Linked DNA regions of Homo sapiens. The protein of the gene in region 6 purifies or fractionates together with the protein of the main gene of each other region. This does not show direct contact. Each region holds a gene or a part of one and is shown on either strand. Other genes may lie near its edges. The genes, in order: ARFGEF3, OSBPL5, SLC7A1, ATP6AP2, SC5D, VIPR1 and MSMO1.

Region 1 (3,500 bases), on a different chromosome or scaffold from region 6:
CTTTATAATCTCAAAGAAAACCCTGGAAACAGCCCAAGTGTTATTAAACAATAGGAAAACTGCTAAATGAATTATGCTACAGCCATATAATGGAAGTATATGTAACATTTTAATTTGAAGAACATATACTGGCATTAGAAAATATTCTTCATATGGTTTTGAGTAAAAAAAAATCAAGCAGGCAACAAAGTCGTGAATAAAATTTTATATTAATTTATAAAAATATATGTGTATAGAAAAAGACATTTAAGAAAATCTATTAAACTGTTATCAGTGGTTATCCTTAGGTGATGTAGTTATGGACAACTTTCTTTTTTGTTGTATTGTTCTTTCCAATTTTTCTACAGAGGCAGGCATTTCTCTCCCAGTGAGGGTTGGGGGAAGTTATAGTGGGAGGGGAAGAAGGTGGGGAAATAGGCTTCCTATCTCTGGGCTGCTACATGTGGCTGTGGACTTCACAACCAGTCAGATGATGTCCAGCCAGGGTTGCCAATCAGAGCTTAAATCCACACTACCTAGTGTAGGGGTGCATGCCCATCAGAGGGAGTGCAATTTTCTTTCTACTCCTTCACATAAGTTTTGATCATGTCTCTCCTTGACCAATTTGATCCTTTTACCATGGACTTCCATGGCTGGTTCCTTTAGGTCACTGATTTCATTCCCTCTACAGACAGGGGGAGCGAATGCAATCAGGTTCACATCATGGTAACCTCATGAAATATCCCAGCTCATGGGTGCAAGAAAGCCTTTAGTCAGCAAGTAAAATGCTATGCTATCATATGAACGTGTCCCCACCAAAAGTAAGTGTTGGAAACGTAATCCCCAATGCAACAGTATTGGGAGGTCAGGCCTAATGAGAGGTGATCTGGCCATGAGGGCTCTGCTCCATGAATGGATGAATGCTGTTATCACAGGAGTGGGGCTTTGTTAGAAAAGGGTGCATTCAGTCCCCTTCTCTCTTCTCTGTTCCACCCTCTTTTTGTCCTTCTACCTTTGGGATGACGCAGCAAGAAGGCCCTTGCTAGATGTGGCCCCTTGATCTTGGACTTCTCAGCCTCCAGAACCATGAACTAATAAATCTCTGTTCATTATAAATCACCCAGTCTGTAGTATTCTGTTATAGCAGCACAAAACAAACTAAGACACACTGTAAACCAATGTGGTTATCTGGGCCTTCAGTGGGTAATATTGACTTCTGTGATATTATACAATGTCCATCTCCTACCTCAGTACATGTGGAGGGATCTTGACAATGGTATCCAGACCACCTAGAGTTTCTGCAAAAGAAAAATTACAAAGTTAAAATAAATATTTAAACACTGAGAATATACATTGTACATGAATTTCTCTGTTAGTTTCTCTTTTCAGGAATTCCTCTAATTATAAACTAGTCAATTCTCAACTATCTGCATGCAAGTCCTTCATATTTTAAAATCCTTTTCCCTTGAGAGCCCCAGAGATTTCCCTGGACCTTGCAAACTAGGAGGGGAAAGTTAAAAGTTAGGGCACATTTCCCTAAACAGATAAAGAACGAATAGTTAAATTCCTAGTCTGAACCACTGAATCTAGTTACAACTAAGATACAATATTCTTGTAATAAAAATAAAGAAAAGCTGTTTCCTTGAAAATACTGTTTCAATATCCTTACACAATAATTCATACTTGTGAAAGACTTTCAAGTTCACAAAGCACTTACACAACATCTTATTATTCTCATACACATTTGTGACACAGTAGATTAAACTTTTTTTAAAAAATTACAGTATAGTTAGGATATTGATTGGAAGGCTCACATCCAAATCTTGTTAATCCAACCTGGATGTTCAATACTTTGCCATTGTTTGTGGATTTTTCACACTATTGCTGCCTCCAATTTTAGAGATAATGAAAAGCTCACCAGTCTCTTCCCCAAAAAACTGTACTACTTCAATCCTTCCAACTTGTCTCCAGTCTTGCAGCTGAAATTGTGTTGACCCCTTTCTTCACTCCTTGGAGTCAACAAGCCCTGTCTATCTGAACTATTTTCATTGGGGAAGGAGAAATGTCTCTTCCCACCTTGCTCAGAGATCAGAGAGAATAACAAATGTGAAATATATACATATATCAGAGACTCAAGGCTAAGAACAGGCCTGATAGGATCTGGGCTTGATATGGCCAGTGGGGCAAAAGAGTGGATTTCAGAAAGACAATTAATCAGCAAAACAGAAAGATGAGTTCAGCAGGGTTCTTGGTTCTGTGAAGACAAGGCCAATGGAGGAAGATGAAGGACTGAAGTCAATGCTTAAGATGAGACAGGATGACAAGAAAGGGAAGCCCTGAGATGCAGGTACAGGAAGCAGCTCAAAGGCCACACAGGCCAGTGCAGCCCACCAGTTAGCACAGCAGGGACTGGCACCCAGGATGAGCCGATGCTGCTCCCCAAGGAAAGGCAGTGACAGTGAACAACCAGATCAGCATGGTTTTCCCGCAGGACAGAGGGATATATAGTCAACCAAGGCTGGGTAACAGTGCCCAGCTCTATAAGGCTAAGAGCAAGCTAGAAGAAAAGGAAAAGAGAAAAGGCTGTCACACAGCAGCCACCATGAAACTACAGCTCTAAGTGCAGTGAGACTCCCAGGCACATGGGATCAGTGTGGAACCCAAGGCGAAGAGCATCCAAAGGTCAAGGAGAAAATGGCCTGCAGCTTTGCTGTAAGCACCCAGGACAGAATGGTAGCTGGGGAGAGGGCACCATGGAAGCATCAAGAAGGAAAGCAAAGAGAACCAGGTTCCACTCCCAGCTCCACTCCAGCTTGTGACACTGTGGGATGGGGGCAGGTCACTTATCCTCTGTAAGTTTCAGTTCCCTCATCTTTAGAAAGAAGACAATGACACCTTCCTCCCGGGATGCTTGTGAGGAGCTGATAGGATCATGATCATAAAGGGCCTGACACAGTCCTTAGACGCCAGTGCCAATTCCTGTCTCCCTTCTTTGATCTCTCACTAAACACTGAACCAGGTCCTGGGCTAGGGACCCAGTGGTGAGAACAGACACGATCCATGAATTCATGGAGTGCACATTCTCATTTCAAAGCATGATAAACGCCAGGAAGGAAAATACAGGGAATTAGGCAAAAGTGGAACAGGAGGTCCTACTGTGGACTGTGAGGTCAGGGCTTCCTGCTGGGGGTAATGAGACCACAAATGATTTATTTAAAGTAGATAAGGAGAGGTCACTCCGAGTGGAGGGAATAATAAGTTTGAAATGCTTGGAGAATCTCAACATCTTCCCTGACTCTGTCCTGCCACTTTGGTCCAAGCTGTCACCTTCTCTCACTTGGATGACTGTACCAGCCTCTGTTCTAGGCTTTTAGCTTTTGGGCTTGCCCCTGAAGCTGCAGTCTCTGCTTAACACAGTATCCTGAGAGACCCTGTCAAGACCCAGATGAGAGCATTTCCTCCACCCCAAATGACTCCCCATCTCATCCTTAGAGAGCCCAACAAGGACTTTCATGATCTGG
Region 2 (3,500 bases), on a different chromosome or scaffold from region 6:
AGAGGATGGAACGTCACCATCTAGCAATGCCTTTTACATGAATGGATCCAGGCATTGAGAATCAATGTCCACTAATGTCACAAGGAACAACAGGCCCTGTGCACCCTGCTGTGGAAAGACACAAAACCCCCATTAAGCGTCGTGTTGAAAAAAACTGTGCTGAACGTGATCAGGCATCTCGAGATCAAATCAATTCGTGGTTTATAGGAAATCCCCAGGGCAGAGGAATGCAGCCAGGAAAATCCATGCTAGAGGGGACTAGGAGGAAATGAGTAATACTCTGCAAGGGAAAAACAGGAGGGAGGGACATCAAGGAGATGTAAACATAGGACATCCATGCACGGAGCATGGCCTGATGCAGAGACCCAGCCAAACGGCCAACTGTCACGTGTGTGGGGGATCAAGACACAGGCACGTGGCAGCTGGGGATATGAACCAGATTGTAGACTCGATGACAACTAAGAGTTTGTTTGTTTGTTTTTCATCTGATGATAGTATTGTGGCTATGGTTAAGAAGGGAAATCCCGGCCTGGCGTGGGGGCTCACGCCTGTAATCCCAGCACTTTGGGAGGCCGAGGTAGGCTGATCACCTGAGGGCAGGAGTTTGTGACCAGCCTGGCCAACATGGTGAAACCCTATCTCTACTAAAAATACAAAAATTAGCTAGGTGTGGTGGCGCACGCATGTAATGCTAGCTACTCGGGAGGCTGAGGCAGGAGAATCGTTTGAACTCAGGAGGCGGAGGTTGCAGTGAGCTGAGATTGCACCATTGCACTCTAGCCTGGGCAACACAGCAAGACTCTGTCAAAAAAAAAAAAAGACAGAAAGAAAGAAAGAAAGAAGGGAAATCCTTAACTTTAGTGATATAAAATAAAATAAAATACACAAATGACATGACATGATATTTGGGATTTACTTCCAATTAATTCAGGGGAGAGCATGAAGGTGGGTGCATTGCTGTGCTGTGGGTATATGGGGTGTACTGTACTTTGATATATGTTTGAACTTTGCCATAATAAAAAGTTGAAAAAATATATGAAGCATGGATGAGTCAATGAGCATGCAAGAAAAGATGGGAATTCTCCCACAAGAAAAAATAAAGGGGAGAAGACGGGAGGAGGAGAGGAAAGAGGGAGGAGATGGGAGGAGGAGAAGAGGAAAGAGGGGGAAGGTGGGAGGAGGAGAAGAGGAAAGAGGGGGAAGACGGGAGGGGGAGGAGAGGAAAGAGGGAAGACAGGAGAAGGAGAGGAAAGGGGGAAGATGGAAGGAGGAGAAGAGGAAAGAGGGGGAAGATGGGAGGAGGAGGAGAGGAAAGAAGGGGAAGATGGGAGGAGGAGGAGAGGAAAAGGGGGGAAGAGAAAGAGGGGCATTTGTCGATCTGAGATCTTGGTTTCTGAGGTTGCCGTGGAAAGTGGTAGACAGGTCCTTGGGTCAGAGTAACCAGGAGAGATTTTTTCCGAGACATTTCCACTAAGCAGGCACTCTCACATGGCTACACCCTCAACAGAAGGAACAGTCGCAGAAAGGCCGTTCATTCCAGAGGGAGAGTCAAGGAAACATTTGTATTGGGCCTGCGCTCCGGGGTTAAAAAGAAACCCCAGAACTCTCCATGAATGTGTAGGGTAAGTTTGGGATTCAAATCTATACTTCCTCTGTGTCCCAGAAACAACCTACTAAGAAAATGTGAGAGCCAACAAAACAATTTCAGCCAACAAAACGAAAACAAACAAACACAAAACTAGCAAATTAGAATCCCAAGGTTTTACTAAATACAGCCATTCTTTGAATAATTATCGAGCACCTTCAAGGGCAACACTATGGTCAGTGAGGACACAGCAGCAAACAAAACAGAATATGAGAGTGACCAGCTAGAGATGATAAAACAACTGTGCTTATTACAATGCTCAAAGATTTATGAGAAAGGATTGGAAACATGACCAAGGAACAATGCACGAGTATAAAAAGAACAGGCAAGGCCGAGCGCACTGGCTCACACCTGTAATCCCAGCACTTTGGGAGGCCGAGGCAGGCGGATCACCCGAGGTCAGGAGTTTGAGACCAGCCTGGCCAACACGGTGAAACCCCATCTCTACTAAAAATACAAAAAATTTGCTGGGCGTGGTGGCGGGCGCCTGTAGTCCCAGCTACTCAGGAGGCTGAGGCAGGAGAATTGCTTGAACCCAGGTGGTGGAGGTTGCAGTGAGCTGAGATCATGCCATTGCACTCCAGCCCGGGCAACAAGAGTGAAACCCCAACTTCGTCTCAAAACAAAAATAAAAACAAACAAACAAAAAAACCAGGCAGGTTTGAAATGAAACCAAGTAGAACTTCTTGGGAAACAATATATCAAAATGGAAAACTCAGTGGATGAGTTACACGTCAAGTTAATTAGAGTTAAAGATACATCTACATAAGTTATCTAGAATGCAAAGAGATAAGAGATACGATGGAAACATTAAGAGAGACAAAGCAAAGGAGGAGATGGTTCAAATTCTGTCTCATTGGAGTTCTAGGAAAAATGGAGAAATCAGGAGTGAGGCACTTAAAAAAAATGGCTAAAATTTTCTGGACTTCATCAAAGCCACGAAACCTCAGGTTCAAATAATTCAAACAAACAAAAACCTTCAATCAGCAAAAATTAAAAAGAAATCCAGAGCTATCAAGCCATAAAAAGACATGAAGGAATTTTTTTTTTTTTTTTTTTTTTTTTTGGAGATGGAGTTTCGCTCTTGTTGCCCAGGCTGGAGTGCAATGACATGATCTCAGCTCACTGCATCCTTCAACTCCCGGGTTCAAGTGATTCTCCTGCCTCAGCCTCCTGAGTAGCTGGGATTACAGGCATGCATCACCATGTCTGGCTAATTTTGTATATTTATTAGAGACGGAGATTCTCCATGTTCGTCAGGCTGGTCTTAAACTCCTGACCTCAGGTGATCCATTTGCCTCAACCTCCCAAAGTGCTGGGATTACAGTTGTGAGCCACTGAGCCCAGCAAAGATTTTTTTTTTTTTTTTGAGATGGGATCTCACGCCAGCCCAGGCTGGCATGCACTGGTGCCACGATGGCTCCTCAAAGCCTCTGCCCCCTGGGCTCAGGTTATTCTCCCACTTCAACCTCCCAAGGCTGGGACCACAGGTGCACCACCATGCCTGGCTAGTTTTTTGGTACTTTTTGTAGAGACAGGGTTTTGCCATGTTGCCCAGGCTGGTCTTGAACTCTTGGGCTCAAGTGATTCCCCCAACTCTACCTCCCAAAGTGCAGGGATTTATAGGCATGAGCCATCATGCCTAGTGGAGGAATCTTTAAGTGCATATTGCCAAGTGAAAGACGCCAATCTGAAAACGCTCCACACCGTATGATTCCAACTACATGACATTCCGGAAAAAGCCAGGGCCTGGAGGGACTGAGGAATATGTGGCTCCATCTAGTCACGTCTAATCATAAGGGATTTTTAGGGTAGTGCAACTATTCTGTGAGATGTGGTAATGGCAGATACATGT
Region 3 (3,500 bases), on a different chromosome or scaffold from region 6:
GAATGCACTTCACATCCTACCCAATATACACAGGTGTATTCTATCAAATATATATATCCGAATAAAAAGTTCGCAAAACGAGTGTTACCCTTACCACCTGAGAGGCACTCTGATAATATTTAATGCTACCTACTTTGTTTCATTAAAAAAAGTAAACATTGATGACAACTCATGAAAAATTGATTTCATAATGCACTCCTGGGGTGCAGCTGGCAGTCTGGAGGAATGCTGCTTAGGAAGCCTCTTTTCTAGGAACCCCTTGGCTGCAGAGATGATGGTGCCTGCACCATAATTCTTCTCTCAGCAAGAAGAGGGGCCCTAGGAAGTCCTTGAAGGGGCTGAACTCCATCTCAGGGACAAAGCCACTTGCTCATCTCAGTGTTGGCATCAGCCACCTCTGCCACTTTTTGCCTGAACCTGATTCGGAGGCCACAGCATCCCCAGAGTGCAGGACAGCAGACAGACCCCAGCCCTCCTCGTTCTCCCCTCAGCCTGCACCCTCCGGTGCCGAAGAACACCAACAGGGCAGCACTCAAAATGCCAACAATAGTTGGCTGCTGTCTTTCACTCTCATTCTCTCCTCTCACATAATTCTAAAGGGTGTCAGAATGTGTTTCCATTGGTGTTTCTCAGGAAATGTCACTAAAATTCCAGCATTTTCATAGAGCGTTTTCCTTTATTTTCAAAGCGGGCCTTGTCGGTGACCATGGTCCTAATTATCCACAGCATATTGCCACAGTGATCTGCAGAGATTCAATTTCACTATTTGGTCTTATGATAAGTAAGTATCTTTCCAACAACTCAGAAGTTTAACCACATTTCTTCCTCCTAAGCAGCCAATCTATTATGAATTCTGTAAAAATGGTCTCACCATCTCCCTGTCACCCCCAAAGCAGCTGGCTTATGGCAAACGTGGCTCCCAAACCCTGTCCTGCTCAGTGACAGGGGCTACCCCAGCCTTTCTTCCCAGCCTATCCACTCCCAATTTCTGAATTATGCCTTTTAAAAAAATGTTTGCTGGAAAAACTGCCCTTCCCAGCAGCTAAGGCTGAGAACACATTTTTATAATGCATGCAAATGGTTTCACACAAGCAAACGGCACTCTCGCAGAGCCTTACATTTGTTGGTCTAGAAGCTGCAAGCATTTCATGCTCAATGTATATTTTATGCTCAGGTAAATCCTCTGGAAACATAACGGTCCATTTACAATAGCTACATTCCCAGTGAGAGACTTCAGCTTGTGAGAACCATGTGTGGTTGTTAAGTTTTGATGTGGCATTGAAAGAAAACATTGTGAATTTTATTTTAGAACCCAGAAGACTAAGCTATGTTGGCTCTCAGCAGATACTGCAGCTGCTGGAAAGAAAGAGAAGGTGCTGCTCGGAGAATGTGAGTGTGTGCCCTCCCCCAGCTGTCCTGGTGAAGGGGGAGTGATGCCCCCCATGCAGAGATAGGGCTGTGGGGAGCCCAGGGCTGCGAGGATCCCAGCAGGCAGCATGTGTGGCCAGGGAGGGTGTGGTGGGGTCCAGTGGGAGCTGACACAGAAGCAAGGCGGAACCCACATGGCTCAACTTAACAGGTCTTACTGTTTTTTCGCTATTACCAAAAAGTTTGAGAAAAAAAAAAATAAATGGCATGTTGAGTGGCCGTTTGTACCCTTTGCTTCTGAGACTTAGGTTTTTGTTTCTTTTAAGTTGATGTGTTCAACTTCAGTTGTAATCAAAATACAAAAAAGCATAAAGAGAAGCAAAGCGTGTTTACCTGGCAAACCGGAAAGATTTTCTACATTTGCTTCCTTATTTGCTGGGTGGATGTGTTACAGGCCGATGCCCAGTGCCCACACTGCAGGGAAAGGGGCCCCTGGCTACGTGGAGGATCACAGTCAACAAAGGCCTTAAAAACACGCAGACCCACTGACAGCCATTCTGCTCCTTAGACAGTTTTAAGGAAAAGAATCATGGCTAAGCCCAAAGACATAAAGTAATTAACTGTTAATAACAACAGCAACAACATAATGGAAACAATCTGAACATCCCATAAAGACACCAATACATTACGCTGTGTATATAAATCTATACAATGGTAGGCAAGCATTAGAAATGTTACTGTGGAAAAATAGCTAATGATATGAGAAATGTTTACTATATATTGTTTTATAAAGAGATACACTGTAGAAAAATACACATTTAAATTCACAAAAATGTTAACCATAGTTGTATCTGTAGACAGTAAACTTCTGAACACAGAGTGTCTTATGCCTTCATGGGATCCCTAGTATCTAGCACAATGCCCAGCCCAGAGCAGGTACTCAATGAACATTTATTAAAAGAATGAATGAATGAATGAGAGAATTAGTTTCTCCATGTTGTCAGGCAGGGTATTTCTACTTTCTTCTTCATGCTTTTCTTTATTTTCCCAATTTTTCTCTATCAGTGATGCATTTACTCTAGTAATTTAAAAACCTACTAAAAGAAACTAAATACCTCTAAATGAATCAGAAACATCCTATTAATTCTGTGCCTCTCGTGTTAACAAGAATGACCTCCCTGTGGGGCATCCACCCACACTTTGGAGGTGGGAACAAACAGAAAAGTGGTAGAGGGCACGAGCTCCGGACCCCTGGGACCTACCGATGATGTAGGAGAGGATTAAGTTCCAGCCGGTGATGAAGGCCCAGAGCTCTCCAACGGTGACATAGCTGTAGAGGTAAGCTGAGCCCGTCTTGGGGACCCGAGCACCAAACTCGCCATAGCACAGGCCAGCCAGCACTGAGGCCAGCGCAGCGATCAGGAAGGAGATGACAATGGCAGGGCCTGCATTCTCACGGGCCACAGCTCCAGCCAGGACGTAGACACCAGCACCCAGTGTGCTGCCCACCCCGAGGGCCACCAGATCAAAAGTGTTCAGGCAGCGAGACAGCCGCGTCTCCTCCCGGCTACAGTCCACCACCTTCCGCCGCAGCATCTGCTGCCCAATGTTGAGCAGGACTTTGCACCCCATGTTGCTGTTCAGAGCTGTTGAAAAAGAACAAAGATGTTTCCTGATTGCTCCTCATTTCACCCATTACTCTAATCTTATCACATTATGGAAACACAGACAGTGATCAGGTCCTTCATAATCATTTCCTGCTAAAACGCTTTAATTCGTAGAATTCCACCATCAATTGTCAGAAGCACGCAGACTTCTCCAGTTTCACCAGCACATACAGAATTAACCCAGCAGGCCAACAGATACAGATGACTTCATTTCGAGGTCTCTGAGCTTCCACATTTGTAGCAGGTCCTCTTAATGGAGACTCTTCCATGGGTGGAAATTATGCAGTAGAGGAAACACACATTAATGACATTGTTCCTACACTCAGTCATCAGATAATACACCAGGAAAAACAAGGTGTTAGTTCAAGTATGCTGTAATAGAAAGCAAACCAAACCATATCTTAATTTCATTACTAAATTAAATTATTAAATTATTAAAACTCAGAGGCCCTGAATGGCAATAAC
Region 4 (3,500 bases), on a different chromosome or scaffold from region 6:
GGATCAGTTTATTCATGAGAGTCATAAGAAAATTACACTAAAGAAGAATCTACCCCAGCAGTAAATGTGCACAATCTTTCATTTTCTAAAATAGCAAAATTTCCAAAATTTCAAGTAGTATAAGGAATGGGAGGCCAGATGCAGTGGCTCAAGCCTGTGATCCCAGCACTTTGGGAGGCCAAGACAGGATTGCTTGAGGCCAGGAGTTCAAGACCAGCCTGGACAACAGAGTGAGACCCTGTCTCTATTTTTTAAAAAGACGGAAATTAATGATATTCATGTATTCATTGAATAACTGCACTTACTTCATTGTTCCTACTCAGAGAATTGAGGGGGAGTGAACTGAGAACAGAGTTTTCTTGAAACAGGCGATTACGGAGCTGGCGCAAGGTGACTGAAAGGTCTTCAAACACTGAGTTTGCCTTCCCTACCATATACACTCTCTGTAAGAAGAATAGAAAATTTTAAGTTGCTCAAATTCTACAGATTAGTTCCAATACCCAGAGGTATGACAACATTGTTCATAAATTAGTTTTATATTTTCATAATAAAATTACATTTCATAATTTTCAAATAATAAAAGCTTATTTTTTAAAATGTCTTGAATAAAACCCTTATCACTTACTTCCTCACTGGGAGCCAACTGCAAAACAACAGGAGTTTCCTCAGAAAATAAGGAGTGAATGGAATTTGCAACACTGTCAAGACTAAAAGGAACTGCCTGAAATTTAAGAGTAAGAACGCAATTATTATGTGAACCAAAGTGGGAAGAAAAATCATTCAGATGGTATTTAAAAAGAAGCCTTAAACTTTTTTCCAGCACTTTCTATGGAAATTTAGAAGCCCGAAATCATTTCCAAACAAGCCCTTTTGAGGGCACAGAAGATTAAACAGCCCCCTGGTAAGCCAAGTCTGTATCTCCCATCATGCCTCAGTGGAAAATAACTTAAACCTGATGGACACAACACTATATCTAGCACAAACCATTTTCTGGTGGTCATTCATGTATTTGAAGCAGCAATACATTTGGTTTCAATATTGACTAAATGTGCCACGATGAATGCATATTCCACAATAAAGTATTTAATTTGCATTTAAGAGGTTAGAGGAATCTGAGTATTGAATTTAATTGAAATAAAAATGGAATTCATCTTTCATTTCAAAATTTTAAAAATGTTTAATGAGATTTAACATTTGTCTTCAGATAGCCTAAAGACTCTTAGATAAGGTGTTAAGTATGTCACAAGGTTTTTGAAGCCTTTATCTTAGGACATGTTGATATTATTAGATTGAAATAACCAATGGTGATAAGACCTACTTTTTTCCTTCAATTTTTTTATTAAAGTGCAAAATACATATAATATAGTATACAAATCTTGGGGTAACAGCTCAACAAATGTTTACACATGCATGCACTCAGGTAGCCCAGCCAGATCGACACAGAACACTATCAGCGCCCTCGAAGTACTACCTCCACCCTCAAGGGTAACAAAAATTCTGACTTCTATCCCCATAGATTTGTTTTGCAGTACATGATTTAAAAAAATAAATTACAGTTATTTTTCCCCTAAAAAAATTATTTCATTCCCAGTATTACTGTATTAAAACAAGCAGTACAGTCATGTTTTTGTTTTAATGGAGATTTCTTACATTGATCTTTCATTCAGTAGTTCCCTTACTACTTAAAGATTCATGTTTACAAGTAGCAAAGTAACGCTAATATGATACAGGCAGAAATCAATGTGATTATGTCTTACTGATAAAATCCCAGCATCACATTTTTTTTTTTTTGAGACAGAGCCTCACTCTGTTGCCCAGGCTGGAGTACAGTGGCGCGATCTCGGCTCAGTGCAGCCTCCACCTCCCAGGTACAAGTGATTCTCCTGCCTCAGCCTCCTGAATAGCTGGGATTACAGGCACGCACCACCACGCCTGGCTAATTTTTGTATTTTTAGTAGAGACGGGGTTTCATCAAGTTGGCCATGCTAGTCTCAAACTCCTGGCCTGATGTGATCTGCCTGCCTTGGCCTCTCAAAGTGCTGGGATTACAGGCGTGAGCCACCATGCCCAGGCCCAGCATCAATATTAAGTGATCAATTTTATGATTCTGTGAAATGAAATAATTTTTTTCTCTTACTCAAGATGCTTATTAACTCTTCCCCAAATTCTCTCAAAATGAGTTAATGAGTAAGTGAAGAGGGGGAAGAGAGTTCAAAGTTGCAAAAGCATACTGCTAGCAGCCGCCCTGAATCATCTATAGGTGCTTTCCTTTAGCGATCATAGAGTTTACCTCCTCAGGCTGTGAGGGGAATACATGAGCAAATGATGCAAACTTTCCAGCCTCACTTCACTTAGTGAAATGGCGCTCGGTTCAGGAAAGTTGAAGATTAGGAACCATGTCCATAGCGATCAAATTGAAGCAGCTCATGAATCAAATGAACACCAATGAAGGAAAAGAAATAATTATATAGGCAGCTAAGCTCAAAAAGTAAAAAGCTTGGCTGCTTAATATCGAATGATGGTTTTTCTCTCACTGTATTGTAAGGGAGATGCATATCTGTCCTCAAATTTCTGTACCTGTATGACTTGAAATTCTAACTAAAACAGCTAGCTAATCAAATGGAAGCTTCGTTAAATGGAATTCTAAGATACTCTGATTTTTATGTTTTGTGGGGTTTGCCCCTGAATCTTTTATCTCATTTACCATCTTCTGCTAGGAAAAGCATTGAGCAGCCAACCAGGGCCAAGCAATAAAATGAGCTCCTCACACAGCACAGCTTCTTCTCATGTAAAATGAGGCTAGTCTGTTTTTAAATCTTTATTTTTGGATTACATGCTAATAAAAATCTCAAAATGGCATTTTGGATTTTTATAATTTTAAAGAAAATCTTCTGCAATGATTTTCACAGAAATCACATAAAAAATGACTTAAATGCTCCCTGTGAAATAATCTGCCTTTTGATCTGTATTGTTCCCTTCCTTCTACTTTATGTGTATTTACTCTGAAGTTCTTCCGCTTTCTTTAGCTCATTAATTTCCATTCTTAGACAACCTAAATTGTCTAAAACATGCATTTAAGGCTATAAATTTCCCTTTTCTTACCACGTTAGCTGCACCTCCCAATTTTGTAAATAAATGCTACATTCATTGTTACTCAGTTCCAAATAATTTAAAAAGTTCCACAGTGATTTCCTCCTCAACCCATGAATTATTTAGGAGTGCATCTATTCCAACTATCTTTTCTTGTTGACTTTTTTTGCTTTTAACATCTCTAAATAAGACACTTAAATTACATCTCCTGATTTTTCAATTTTAGGTCTTGTCTATTTACTATCCATTATAGAAAATGAGGCTTTAGCTCTCTCACATCACCAACCACTGCCCCATCCATGCGCTGAGCCATCCATGCGCTCTGCTTCTGTTTCTATCTCCCCACTCTTACCCAATAGTTATATCAAAATTTTCACTTGATCAGCATCATTTCATTATTATGACAATGC
Region 5 (3,500 bases), on a different chromosome or scaffold from region 6:
TTCTCTACCTCTAATCAATATTCCAGATCGGGAGTTGGTAAATTGCAGCCCACGGGCCAAACTCAGAGCCTGCTTTGTAAAAATCTTTATGGAACACAGCGACACCCAGATGTTTACATACTGTCTGTGGCTGCTTTTCTGCTACAAAGGTGGGCTTATAGTATCACTGCAACAGAGACAGTATGGCCCGTTGAACCGAAGGCATTTACTACCTGGCCATTTACAGATAGTTTGCCAACTCCTGTTTCAGATGCTTAAACTCTAAAAAACATTAGTCAGTTCAGTACATATTTAAGTCCATTCTATACTCATGGTCCTGTTACAATACAGTTCGGTGATATTGTGGTCAGCTTTTGTGATCTGACTATGGAATCTATCATTTATGATCGACTCACTCATCCCTCATTGCATTGTTCGCACAAGAAAACGTGTTCAGCATCTAAAATGTCTCTCACTTGAACTGAAATTTTTGAACAAGAAGCCAATCTGCAAATTGCCTACCCACAATAGATTTCAGGTGTTCAAACGGCCTTTATCTCCTACATATTGGGCCACGTTAATAAACATCAATTCATGAAACAAAATAGCCCACAGGTAAGGAAAATTCTGAAAATACTTATTTACTTCTTTGTAGCCTATTTCCTTCACTAGATTCCCTATGAGATTTCTCCACTAAATTCCCACAGGGATTTAAGAAAATGAGAAACTGACAGGAAAAGACATACAATGCAAAGCCTTGCTTCCATCCATGTCACTGTAAACCACACCGTCATTTCATTTCCACCTCTCTGGGTGACCATATCTATTAGTTTCCTGAGAATCCTTACGGTGTTTGTTAATGTAAGATGGAATGATGACAAATTTTTCTCTCCCTCCTTACAAAACATGGCATACTATATACACCATGAAGTTCCTTTTTCTTAATTGAATATATATCTTGGAGATCTTTCCATCCCTACATAAATATCATGCTCCTCCTTTTTTTGTTTTTAAAGAAACAGGTTTATTGAGATATAATTCACATACCATAAAATTCACTAAAGTATATGATTGACTAGTTTTTTAGCATTCTCAGAGCTATGCAATCATTACCACTATCAAGTTTCAGAACATTTTCAGCACCCCAAAAATAAACCCCAACCCTATACTGTTGAACTTCTAGGATGTGTAAAGTTTTTCATCAAATTTGGTGAGTCTGGGGCCACTCTTTCTTAAACTTTCTATGACTTTCTCTCTTCTCCTTTTAGGACTCTCATTATGCTTATGTGGAAATGCATGACAGTGTCCCCAAGTCTCTGTTTGTATTTCTTCATTTTCTTTCTCTTCCCAGCTGTTTAATCTCAATTGACCTATCTTCCAGTTCTGTGCTCTGTTGGCTCAAATCTGCTGTTAAGCAAGACAGTTTCAGTCACTGTACTTTTCAACACCTGCGTTTCCATTTGGTTCTTTAAAAAAAAAAAAAAAAAACTTTTATCACTTTATTGATATTCTCTACTTGGGAAGAAACTGTTCTAATACTTCCTTTTAGTTAGTTAAACGTGGTGTTCCTTAGTTCTTTTATATTTGTAGTAGCTGATTTAGAGTCTTTGCCTTGTAAGTCCAACATCTGGGCTTTCTGAGAGAGAGTTTCTACTGACTGATTGCCTTTTTGTGTGTACAGGCCATACTTTCCTGTTTGTGTTTTTTAATTTTTTATGGAAAATGGGATATTTTAAGTAATATGATGGGGTAACTCTTGAAATCAGATTGTATGCACCACCGCCCACCCTGCCCCAGGGCTTTAAGTTGCTTTTGTTGTTGCTGTGCGTTAAGTAATTCTCTGAACTAATTACATACCTGTTTTATTTGTTGTGTGCAGCTACAAGTCTCTTACTAATGACTGGAGTGATTTTCTTAAGTGCTTTGAACCAGTTAAGTCCCCCAGCCTTTGCCAAGGTGCTGTGTTGGGCCATGCTTTCAATACTTTAGTTGTCACTCTAAAATTGACTGGCCTGAACTTACTGCTTGCGTAAACCCTCAAGGTCAGCCAAAGGGGAAATTAGGGCCTTCTCCCCTTTCTTGGGTATGTGCAACAGCCCTGCTCATGGGAATCATTCTAGATTCTCAGGAAAACAGAGCTTTTCAAAGCCCCCTAGGGATATCTCATTTCTCAGTATTCCCTTTTAAGTATTTTTGGTCAGGCTTTTGTTAGTGCCAGCTGATAATAGTGCCTCTAAGACCTGTTATGTGTAAATAATGACTCTCCTTGACAAAACACCCTGGGACAGGATGATATTGAACAAGCTCTAAGACAGGTCATATAAACACAAGCCTTGAGAATTGCCAGAGAGATCAAGTGGTGATGATTTTCTGGGTTGTGGCCTTTGGTGAGGCTGCAAACCTATTCTGTACCTTCCATCCAGGCTGCTGTTTTTCATAGTTACTGTGTTGTAAGGCTTAGTTTTCAAGGCTACCATGAAGTCAGCAAAAGGGAGATGGTAAAGGACGGAAAATGTCCAAAGCTCATTGTTCTTACTGAGATTCAACTACTTTTCTCAAATAAAGGCTGCTAAGATTATTGTAAAGCTTTAACTCATAAAGTTTTAATTCCTAGAGCTCTAAAAAAGCTGATTCTGACAACTTCTGTCAGTGTTTTGTTGCTTTTTATAAAGAAGAGATTTTCAGAGATTCTTACTCTGCTGTTTTGGAAGTCACCATCTCCTTTTTTATAATACAGGTCTACTACCATTCTTACTTAAAACATTTGGCATCAGATGTTATTTCGGAATTCAAAATTCCTATAAATACATTTTGCAAAGGTCAAAACTTCTCCCTGTCATTAAATAAATCAAATATTTGGGGGTTTTGGTTCTTTTTTATTATTTATTTATTCATTTAGAGACAAGGTCTTGCTCTGTCATTCAGGCTGGAGTGCAGTAGTGTAATCTCAGCTCACTGCAACCTCTGCCTCCCGGGCTCAAGTGATCCTTCTGACTCAGCCTCCTGAGGAGCTGGTACTACAGGTGGGCACCACCATGCCCAGTCAATTAAGAAAAAATTTTTTTGTATGGACAAGGGCTCATTATATTGCCCAGGCTGGTCTCAAACTCCTGGACTCAAGCAATCCACCCACCTCAGCCTCCCAAAGTGCTAGGATTACAGGCATGAGTCACCATGACCAGCTCATATCAAATATTTGTTTAGAAAATGTGAATATTCACATTAAGTGGGATAAGTACATACTGTAAATGGTATTATAATTCATTTGTATATTAACAATTTATGTAATTATGTATGGAGTAACAAATGACAAATGGAAAATAGACTGGTACAGACAATAAACAATGTATTCTCTTTTTAAAAGAAAAATTCAGTAAACTTTCAAATATATATAAAATCAAAGTTAAATACTTGTGCATGTATATGTATACATACACGCAATAAATGTTCATTACATCTGATTGCTTGAGAATCTTAAAGAGAAGGGCCTATCAGGTTGGAATTAGACATTGGTCATGGGC
Region 6 (3,500 bases):
GGACAGGGTCCTTACCTCCCTGGGCCTCAGTTTCTCTGTAGGCTACGTGGGCCTCAACCACCTCCCCTGCCGACTTAGAGATTCTTGAAGTGGGTCCGTGGGAAGAACATAGGTGGGGGACCTTCCTTTAAGGGGGTCCCTCCTGGCCTGCAGGCACCAAAGTGCTTAGTACTTTGACCATTGTTTTAAGTAAATCAGCTCCATTTACTGGGATGTGCATCCCAGCTGGCAGCCAGCAATCCATTGCTGCGGAGGGAGAGGGGTCCAAGCTGAAGCTGAACAACTCAGTGCCTAAGAAGCTGCACAGCCAAGTCCTTTCCACCCCAAACAGCTCTCTCATTCCTGTTGAGGGCTCTCTGGTGGAGCCTCTGTCTCACAGGTCACCTGCAGGCCAACACTCCCAGAAGCAGCTAGCACCATGGTTGACCTCGTCCAGGTCCAGGGAAGGCCTCCCTCTCCAGGACTCCTTTAGATTTCCCCAGCATCCAGACCTCACCTGCCTAAGTGCTGTTGCCCTGGAAGCCACAGTGAGCACGAGCTCCATCTTGCACCTTTACCAGCCAATGGGGGTAAAGACATTAGCTGGTAAGTCATTTAAAACTTATTGAAAGTAACACAGTTGTGTGATGGAGCATGATACAGTTACTCGTATAACTGTTAAAAGATAGGAGACTTCAAGGAAACTGTCTGTGGTTCCTCTTTGGGGTCATGTGCTTTCTCTCCTTCCCATAAGGGTTACTCAGGCTGAAATGCTCAAGACACTCTGTCTCAAGGGATTTGTGGCTGTTTCATCCTCAAGTATAGGGGGAATAGTGGCCAGGAAGATCTCAGAGGTGGCTTCTGGAAGAGGAATCTGGGTACTGGCTACCCTGCCTTGTGTCCCATCATTGGTCTGTCTTGCCTGTCTTGGAGCACATTTCTCACCAAGGTACCATCCCAACCCCATCTCCCACCAGCAACAGGGTTCTTTCTGCTTTCTGGCCCCTTCCCAGCGTCTCCTGATTCTCCTGTCCATTCTTATCTCTCATAACACTGTAACGTCAAAACAGGATGGATGGTAGCAGATATCTCTTGTTTCTGCCTTCCACCATCCTTTACTCTCTTCTGGTGCCATGTCCTCATCTGTGTCTGGGAAACAACCTCCTTCCCTACCTCTAGTTCATGGAGTTCTGATGAACCCTCTTCCAGGGGATTGACATGTGACCAAGGCTTAAGTCCATCAGAGCATTCCTGGCCACAGTGCCTGACACATGGCCTGAGTCAGGCTACTCAGAGCCAGGAGGCTCACTCCTGGGACTTTGGATTAAGTGATTAAGAAAGTGAATTTGGTTTTTCCCCACTGGACTGGAAACCTTAAAGGAAGCAAGGGCTCAAGCTTCTGCTGTCTTCTTGTTGACAAGTGGAACACACGGATAAAAACTATACAGCTGAAGGCAGAATAGAGAGATGGAGAAAAATCAGGTTCTCTTAATATTGTCTGGGTCTGTGAATGCAGCCATGCCTGAAACCAGCTCTACTGCTAGCAACATGAGCTGATGCCTTTCCTTTATGGCTTGGATCAGTTGAGTTTTCTGTTGGTCGCTGTAAACAAAAGTGTCCAGCCTTGCCCTCTGAGGACAAGATAATGGACGCCCTCACTTTCTGGGCCTTCTTAAGCCAGGACTGTGGCCATATAGTTTGCCAAGAAATATTTGTTTCCCAATCACCATGGGCGCCTAGGATTTCTGGCAGCTTCTGCTTGCGACTCTCTGAGGGTAGAAGAGTGTTGGGTCAACTTCTCCAGCCAACTCTGCCCCCTCAGCAGCACAGACACACAGCCCTTCCTTAGAGGCAGTTTGGAGAGAAAGGAGGGGTGGGTACCGAAGCCTGTGGTGTTTATGAAACAGTGGGTGTGGTCTGGAAGATGAGCTCTCTCTTTGTCACAATTTAGTTTAGTGTTGAGCCCTATCTGGGGAGGGGTAGAGGAAATGGAGACCCAAAGAGGGACCTGAGGTCACCCAGCAAATGCGCATTCCCAGATGGGACCTAAGTCTCTGACCGCTGGTCTGGACTGCATCAATCCTTCAACACAGCCTCGCCTTGGACCCTCTGGTCAACCATTGCCCTTTGAGGGACCGGGCCAGGGCAGCTCCCTCTAGTCCTTATCACTAAGGAATTCAGGCAGACTTTGGACTTCCTCTCCCACTTATTTATTTCCCTATTCTAAACATCCTCATTATCCCTCTGGACTTCAGGAACACAGAGAGAGTTGAAAAATTCCCTGGCTGAATATAGCCAAGTCTACTGATGTCAGGGAAGTGTTCCAGGGTGGGATATAGCTGGAGTCTGGGCTTCCTACAGAATGGGTATGCTGTACTCATTCTGTAGAGGTAGGTCATGGAGGATGTGCAAGTTAGACAATTAGAAGTGGAGTAAGAGCACCCCAGAAAGTAGAGCAGCGTGTGCACAGGCATGGAGGCATGAAAATGCCTAATACATGCAAGGCTGTGAGAAGCCTGGTGTAGCTGCAGCAAGGAGTTCTGGGGGCATCAGGAGACAAGTTGAGAGATGTAGACTGGGGTAGGATTGGGAAGGGCCTGGAATGCCAGTTTTCAAGTGTGAGCTTTCACTCCTAGGCCATGGGGGCCAACAGAGACTTGAAGCAGGAGACTGAGGATGGGGGATACACATTTTACAAAGATCCCTCAGGTTGCAGGTGGTGGGGCTGAAAGCTACTGCACCAGTCCAGGCAGGAACTGATGAAGCCTGGGCAGGACAGTGGGTATAAAGAGAGGGCACAGAGAGGAGGGGGCAGGTGGAATGAACAAGACTTGGTTAGTCCCTGTCTCCAACTAGACTCAGGATTCTCCTGCCAACTCCCTGTCATTCACCTCCCACATCCCGCTAGCCCCATGGCAGAGGACAGAAGAAGACCAGGATGGAGAAGATGCTGTGGACTTCTTCAGTCTTCTTCAGCCTGGGTCCCTTCTGGGCTTAGGAACTCCTGCCCCAAAGAAGGTGCTGAGAGCCCAGCCTGGACCAAAACTCTCTAGCCTCAGCTCAACGGCAGGGTCAGGCTGCCTTTAAGCTTACTTTTTGGAGCTCAGTCAAGCATAGGAATTGGTGAGGGGCTAGAGAGAAAGCCCTGCTTTTTCCTGTCCATGTGGGGTTCTCTGAGATCTGGAGCAAAGGCTAGGTGTGGTGATGGGGGTATGGGTGAAGATGCTGGGAGTTGTAGCTGTTAGATGCAAGGGGCTCTGAAAGACAGGGTGGGCCATGCTCAGGTTCGTAGGCCATGTTCAATCCCCTCAAGGGAAGCCTGAGACCACAGCTACTGCCTCGAATCAGAAGCCCCAGCCTCATCATCTGGGGCCAGAGAACTAGGGCAGGAGGAGCCAAGTAGCACAGCAGGAAGCATGAGTCCCTCCGAGGAGAAGCTGGTCTCTGAGAGGAGCACAGAATGCAGCAGGCTGGATAAGGTGAGGCAGGAGAAAGAACTGTCTGCAAATTGCCAAGCATGC
Region 7 (3,500 bases), on a different chromosome or scaffold from region 6:
CTAAGACTCAGGAATCTTTGCCTTCTAAATTCTTGACAACTACTATCACTACTTCAGGTGAAGAAACTGTTAACAGATGCGCCTAGCCATGATGATCTCAAACAAACTAAGAAACACTATGGAATGAATAATTCTCCAGTCTTTGCTGCCACAGATCATTCACTTCACTTCTTTTACCAGAAGTTTCAGAGAAGAAGAAATATAATATGCTAAGATTACTGTTGGGTGTCCACAATTGAAGAAGTTGTATACGAAGCATTGGAAGCCTTTTACACAGTAAGTCGATGCTTCCAGGCACTCAGTGGTATTCATTCCAACAAATAAATGCACTTTTGTTCAAATCCAATGACAGAATTATAAACTCTCTGAGTTGAGAAGTACACAGATATGTCCTGATTATGGAGTTCACAGATTCAAGTCAAAATGAGAAAAGTTAGATCAACATGGGATGTTCGTTAAGACCTCATCAGGATACCCATTTGCTTAGCAAGTCATTATAAAAAACAAAGCAAAACAAAACAAACACTAACTAAATGTATTCAATTTATAGGACTGCACTTAAAAAAGTGCTTTGGGCTTAACAAAACGATGGTGACAATAAATATCAGTTATTGCTTTGTTTTAAATGTCACTGCTGAAAAATTCAGGTATCCGCCAACAAAACTCTTTTAATTGAACCACGATATCCAAAGTACGGGAACTACTGCGCATCAGCAGAAGCCCAAAGAGGTCAACCAGCTTGGGCAGGGTCACACACGCAGTTATTAGCAGAAGTTGGACTAACTAAAATCTAGGTCTCCAGATCCAGCTCTGTTCTTGAAATTCTTTAAGGGTTATCTTCCTGACAAAAATAGGAAAAGCACTGAACTAAGAATCAATCCAGAGACTTGTGCTCTAATACCAGGGCTGCTACTCACCAGTTAACTAGCTCTTGTGATGTTTACAACTCAGTTTCTTCAACAATAAAATGGGAGGATCTGACAGCTGCCTTTGTATTTCTAATCTGAGCATTATCTAACCCCACTCCTCTAAACCTCCACTCTGTAATTGGGGACAAAATAAATGAAGGATTCAGGCTTCAGTTGGCAATAGTACTGTCTCCTACAGCAACTATGGTTAATAGACTTAATTTTCCAGGTAGACTGGGATATCGATGCAGTTACAGAAATTACAAAGTTAATCAACTATAATAAAATCACATGCTATACCATTTACAGTATACATAAATTAGTTACAAAGACAGTTAGCAATACAAATTCATACCTAGTGCAATATGAAAGTTTACCATATTTTACTTTCTTTATGCATAACTGTACTTAATATAAAGGAATACCTTTACAAGGGCCACAAACTTCAGAAATAATATTTTTAGTACATTTATCTTTGAGGAAAATTTTTGGAGAATTACTAAGATGTATGTTTTTTTTTTTTTTAAAGAAATAGATCCTGCAAAGTCTGCTTTACTTTTTCATTCCTGTGAAATTTTCGCCTAACTAGCAAGGATGTGCATTAGCTCTCCAGTTGTCTGTTCTGTTTGAAAGCAGAAAGTCTTTAGTACTATTTCATCACCACCACCAACTTCTTCTATTCTTTTCGACAATTTTAAGAATAAAAACATTTATTGCATATGTTAAATATAATTCTCAAATATTTTATCTTAAACAATTGATACCCTCAATGTTAATCAGGGTATCTGCCTTCGAAATGCATAAACCTGTAATTAATTTGTACCAATATTTTGGTTTCTTTTAAAACTCCTTTAACTTGTGAAAACTAGTCCTGGTTTAAAATCACATTTTTTATCAAAAATGCTCAAAGCATGGACTTTAATGGTTATGAAACATAAAGACTTGCTGAGTACAGACTTGAAGTCAAATTATCCAGCCTTACAATCTGTTCATAAACAACTAGCTCTGACCAACTAGACTACAGCTTATTCTTTCCTTTGCCACATTATATTTTAAAGCTGCTCATATACCCTTGCCTGAGAAAGTCCTTTGTCTCTCTGCAAAGGTTACTACTTCTAACCAGTGAGTCAGTTACAAACTGCAGTGAAGGAGAAAAAGGATGCTTTTGCCTGGCCAGCCATACAATGAATTACAATGAATAAGCCCTATAAATAAATCACTGGGTGAAACACGGCAGCCACAATCACCCTAAAGGTGCATTAGAACTTAGACGTCCAAACTTAATTCTGCCTTTCAAAGCAGCTGCTTTCCTAAAAAGCACTTTGGAGCTTCTGTGACCTTAATTGAGGGTCACAGAGTACTCTCCTTTGGCCCTCCTATTTTTTATTTCCTTCGCCTTTACCCTTTGCTCTTTTCTCCTTTGGCCTGGAGTCCACAGTCATCTGACCCCTGCATTATCCCCAGAGAGGACTAATATTAATACCTGCTTAAAGTGAGACTCTGGGAGAGGCTGTGAAACTAACAGAATGATAACAGAGAATGTGTACAGACTGCCATCCAAAATATATACAGTTGTCCTTTGGTATCTTTTGAGGATTGGTTCTGGGACTTTCTGCAAATACCAAGATCTGAAGATGCTCAAGTGCCTGATATAAAATGACATAGTATTTGACATAACCTACACGAATCCTCTCGTATACTTTAAATCATCTCTACAGCACTTATAATACTTAATAAAATGCAAATGCTCTATAAATAGTTGTCATTTTGAATAATGACAAGGAAAAAAAAGACTGTACATGTTCAGTGTAGACACAATTTTTTTCCCCTGAATATTTCTGATCTGCAGTTGGTTGGATCCATGGATACAACAACCCATGGATATGGAGGGCCAATTGTACTAAGTGAATGTAAATTACTTTCCATAGATGAATACTCTCAATGGTCTACTTTCTACCAAGACTGTGTGCCCCTGAGTTTTAGTTTGGAATGACTTTTTATGAAAAGTAAACAGCAAACACTAGAAACTATCATCAGCTTACAAATTCTAACAAATAATTCATCTTTCTAATAAGCTACTCCAAATTCTCACGTCAAGCTCACAGGCTACATATGAGATTTCACCTTGTCATGTACATAGCGACCTCTCAACATTTAGTGCAATGAAGCAAATATCCAGAAACGAGGAGCATCACCTCCTTATTTGGGATGATACGAATGCTGCAGAACTACCTACCATATATTTAGGGAAAAAAAACTTGAATAGCCCTGATCAAGGTCGTAGTGTATTAACAGTCCCTTAGATTTACTGGAACATAGAGTTGGGGTGAACTGCAAAATATGCGCAAATCACCACACCTTTCCTTTCCAGCTAGCTTAAACATTAAAATTCATAAACTTAAGTTAGATAACCATCACATCTACTTAAAGCCCAATTTAACAAAGTATTCTTGAAATGTTATCAATAATGACCTAGGACTGTGTTGCTCAATTCAGGAGCAACTAGTAACATGTGGCTTCCAAACACTTTAAACATGGCTAGTCTAAATTGAGATAGACTAAAATTAATGTAAAATACACACGGAATTGCAA

What was found.
Region 1: the proteins of VIPR1 (region 6) and ARFGEF3 purify together in Homo sapiens (affinity purification with mass spectrometry; 2 studies listed by BioGRID and IntAct, with this or other methods). This does not show direct contact.
Region 2: the proteins of VIPR1 (region 6) and OSBPL5 purify together in Homo sapiens (co-immunoprecipitation; 2 studies listed by BioGRID and IntAct, with this or other methods). This does not show direct contact.
Region 3: the proteins of VIPR1 (region 6) and SLC7A1 purify together in Homo sapiens (affinity purification with mass spectrometry; one large-scale study listed by BioGRID and IntAct). This does not show direct contact.
Region 4: the proteins of VIPR1 (region 6) and ATP6AP2 purify together in Homo sapiens (affinity purification with mass spectrometry; one large-scale study listed by BioGRID and IntAct). This does not show direct contact.
Region 5: the proteins of VIPR1 (region 6) and SC5D purify together in Homo sapiens (affinity purification with mass spectrometry; 2 studies listed by BioGRID and IntAct, with this or other methods). This does not show direct contact.
Region 7: the proteins of VIPR1 (region 6) and MSMO1 purify together in Homo sapiens (co-immunoprecipitation; 2 studies listed by BioGRID and IntAct, with this or other methods). This does not show direct contact.

Annotation. Positions count from the first base shown.
Region 1 is NC_000006.12:138,168,439-138,171,938, reverse strand, and holds part of ARFGEF3 (brefeldin A-inhibited guanine nucleotide-exchange protein 3), read right to left. Parts: intron 1,278-3,500; coding exon 1,226-1,277; intron 1-1,225. UniProt on the Homo sapiens protein: Participates in the regulation of systemic glucose homeostasis, where it negatively regulates insulin granule biogenesis in pancreatic islet beta cells. Also regulates glucagon granule production in pancreatic alpha cells.
Region 2 is NC_000011.10:3,095,811-3,099,310, forward strand, and holds part of OSBPL5 (oxysterol-binding protein-related protein 5), read right to left. Parts: intron 1-3,500. UniProt on the Homo sapiens protein: Lipid transporter involved in lipid countertransport between the endoplasmic reticulum and the plasma membrane: specifically exchanges phosphatidylserine with phosphatidylinositol 4-phosphate (PI4P), delivering phosphatidylserine to the plasma membrane in exchange for PI4P, which is degraded by the SAC1/SACM1L phosphatase in the endoplasmic reticulum.
Region 3 is NC_000013.11:29,533,189-29,536,688, forward strand, and holds part of SLC7A1 (high affinity cationic amino acid transporter 1), read right to left. Parts: intron 3,015-3,500; 5' UTR 3,001-3,014; coding exon 2,631-3,000; intron 1-2,630. UniProt on the Homo sapiens protein: High-affinity, low capacity permease involved in the transport of the cationic amino acids (arginine, lysine and ornithine) in non-hepatic tissues.
Region 4 is NC_000023.11:40,594,470-40,597,969, reverse strand, and holds part of ATP6AP2 (renin receptor precursor), read right to left. Parts: intron 722-3,500; coding exon 626-721; intron 444-625; coding exon 306-443; intron 1-305. UniProt on the Homo sapiens protein: Multifunctional protein which functions as a renin, prorenin cellular receptor and is involved in the assembly of the lysosomal proton-transporting V-type ATPase (V-ATPase) and the acidification of the endo-lysosomal system.
Region 5 is NC_000011.10:121,299,271-121,302,770, reverse strand, and holds part of SC5D (lathosterol oxidase), read right to left. Parts: intron 1-3,500. UniProt on the Homo sapiens protein: Catalyzes the penultimate step of the biosynthesis of cholesterol, the dehydrogenation of lathosterol into 7-dehydrocholesterol (7-DHC).
Region 6 is NC_000003.12:42,509,143-42,512,642, reverse strand, and holds part of VIPR1 (vasoactive intestinal polypeptide receptor 1 isoform 1 precursor), read right to left. Parts: intron 1-3,500. UniProt on the Homo sapiens protein: G protein-coupled receptor activated by the neuropeptides vasoactive intestinal peptide (VIP) and pituitary adenylate cyclase-activating polypeptide (ADCYAP1/PACAP).
Region 7 is NC_000004.12:165,334,169-165,337,668, reverse strand, and holds part of MSMO1 (methylsterol monooxygenase 1), read right to left. Parts: intron 1-3,500. UniProt on the Homo sapiens protein: Catalyzes the three-step monooxygenation required for the demethylation of 4,4-dimethyl and 4alpha-methylsterols, which can be subsequently metabolized to cholesterol.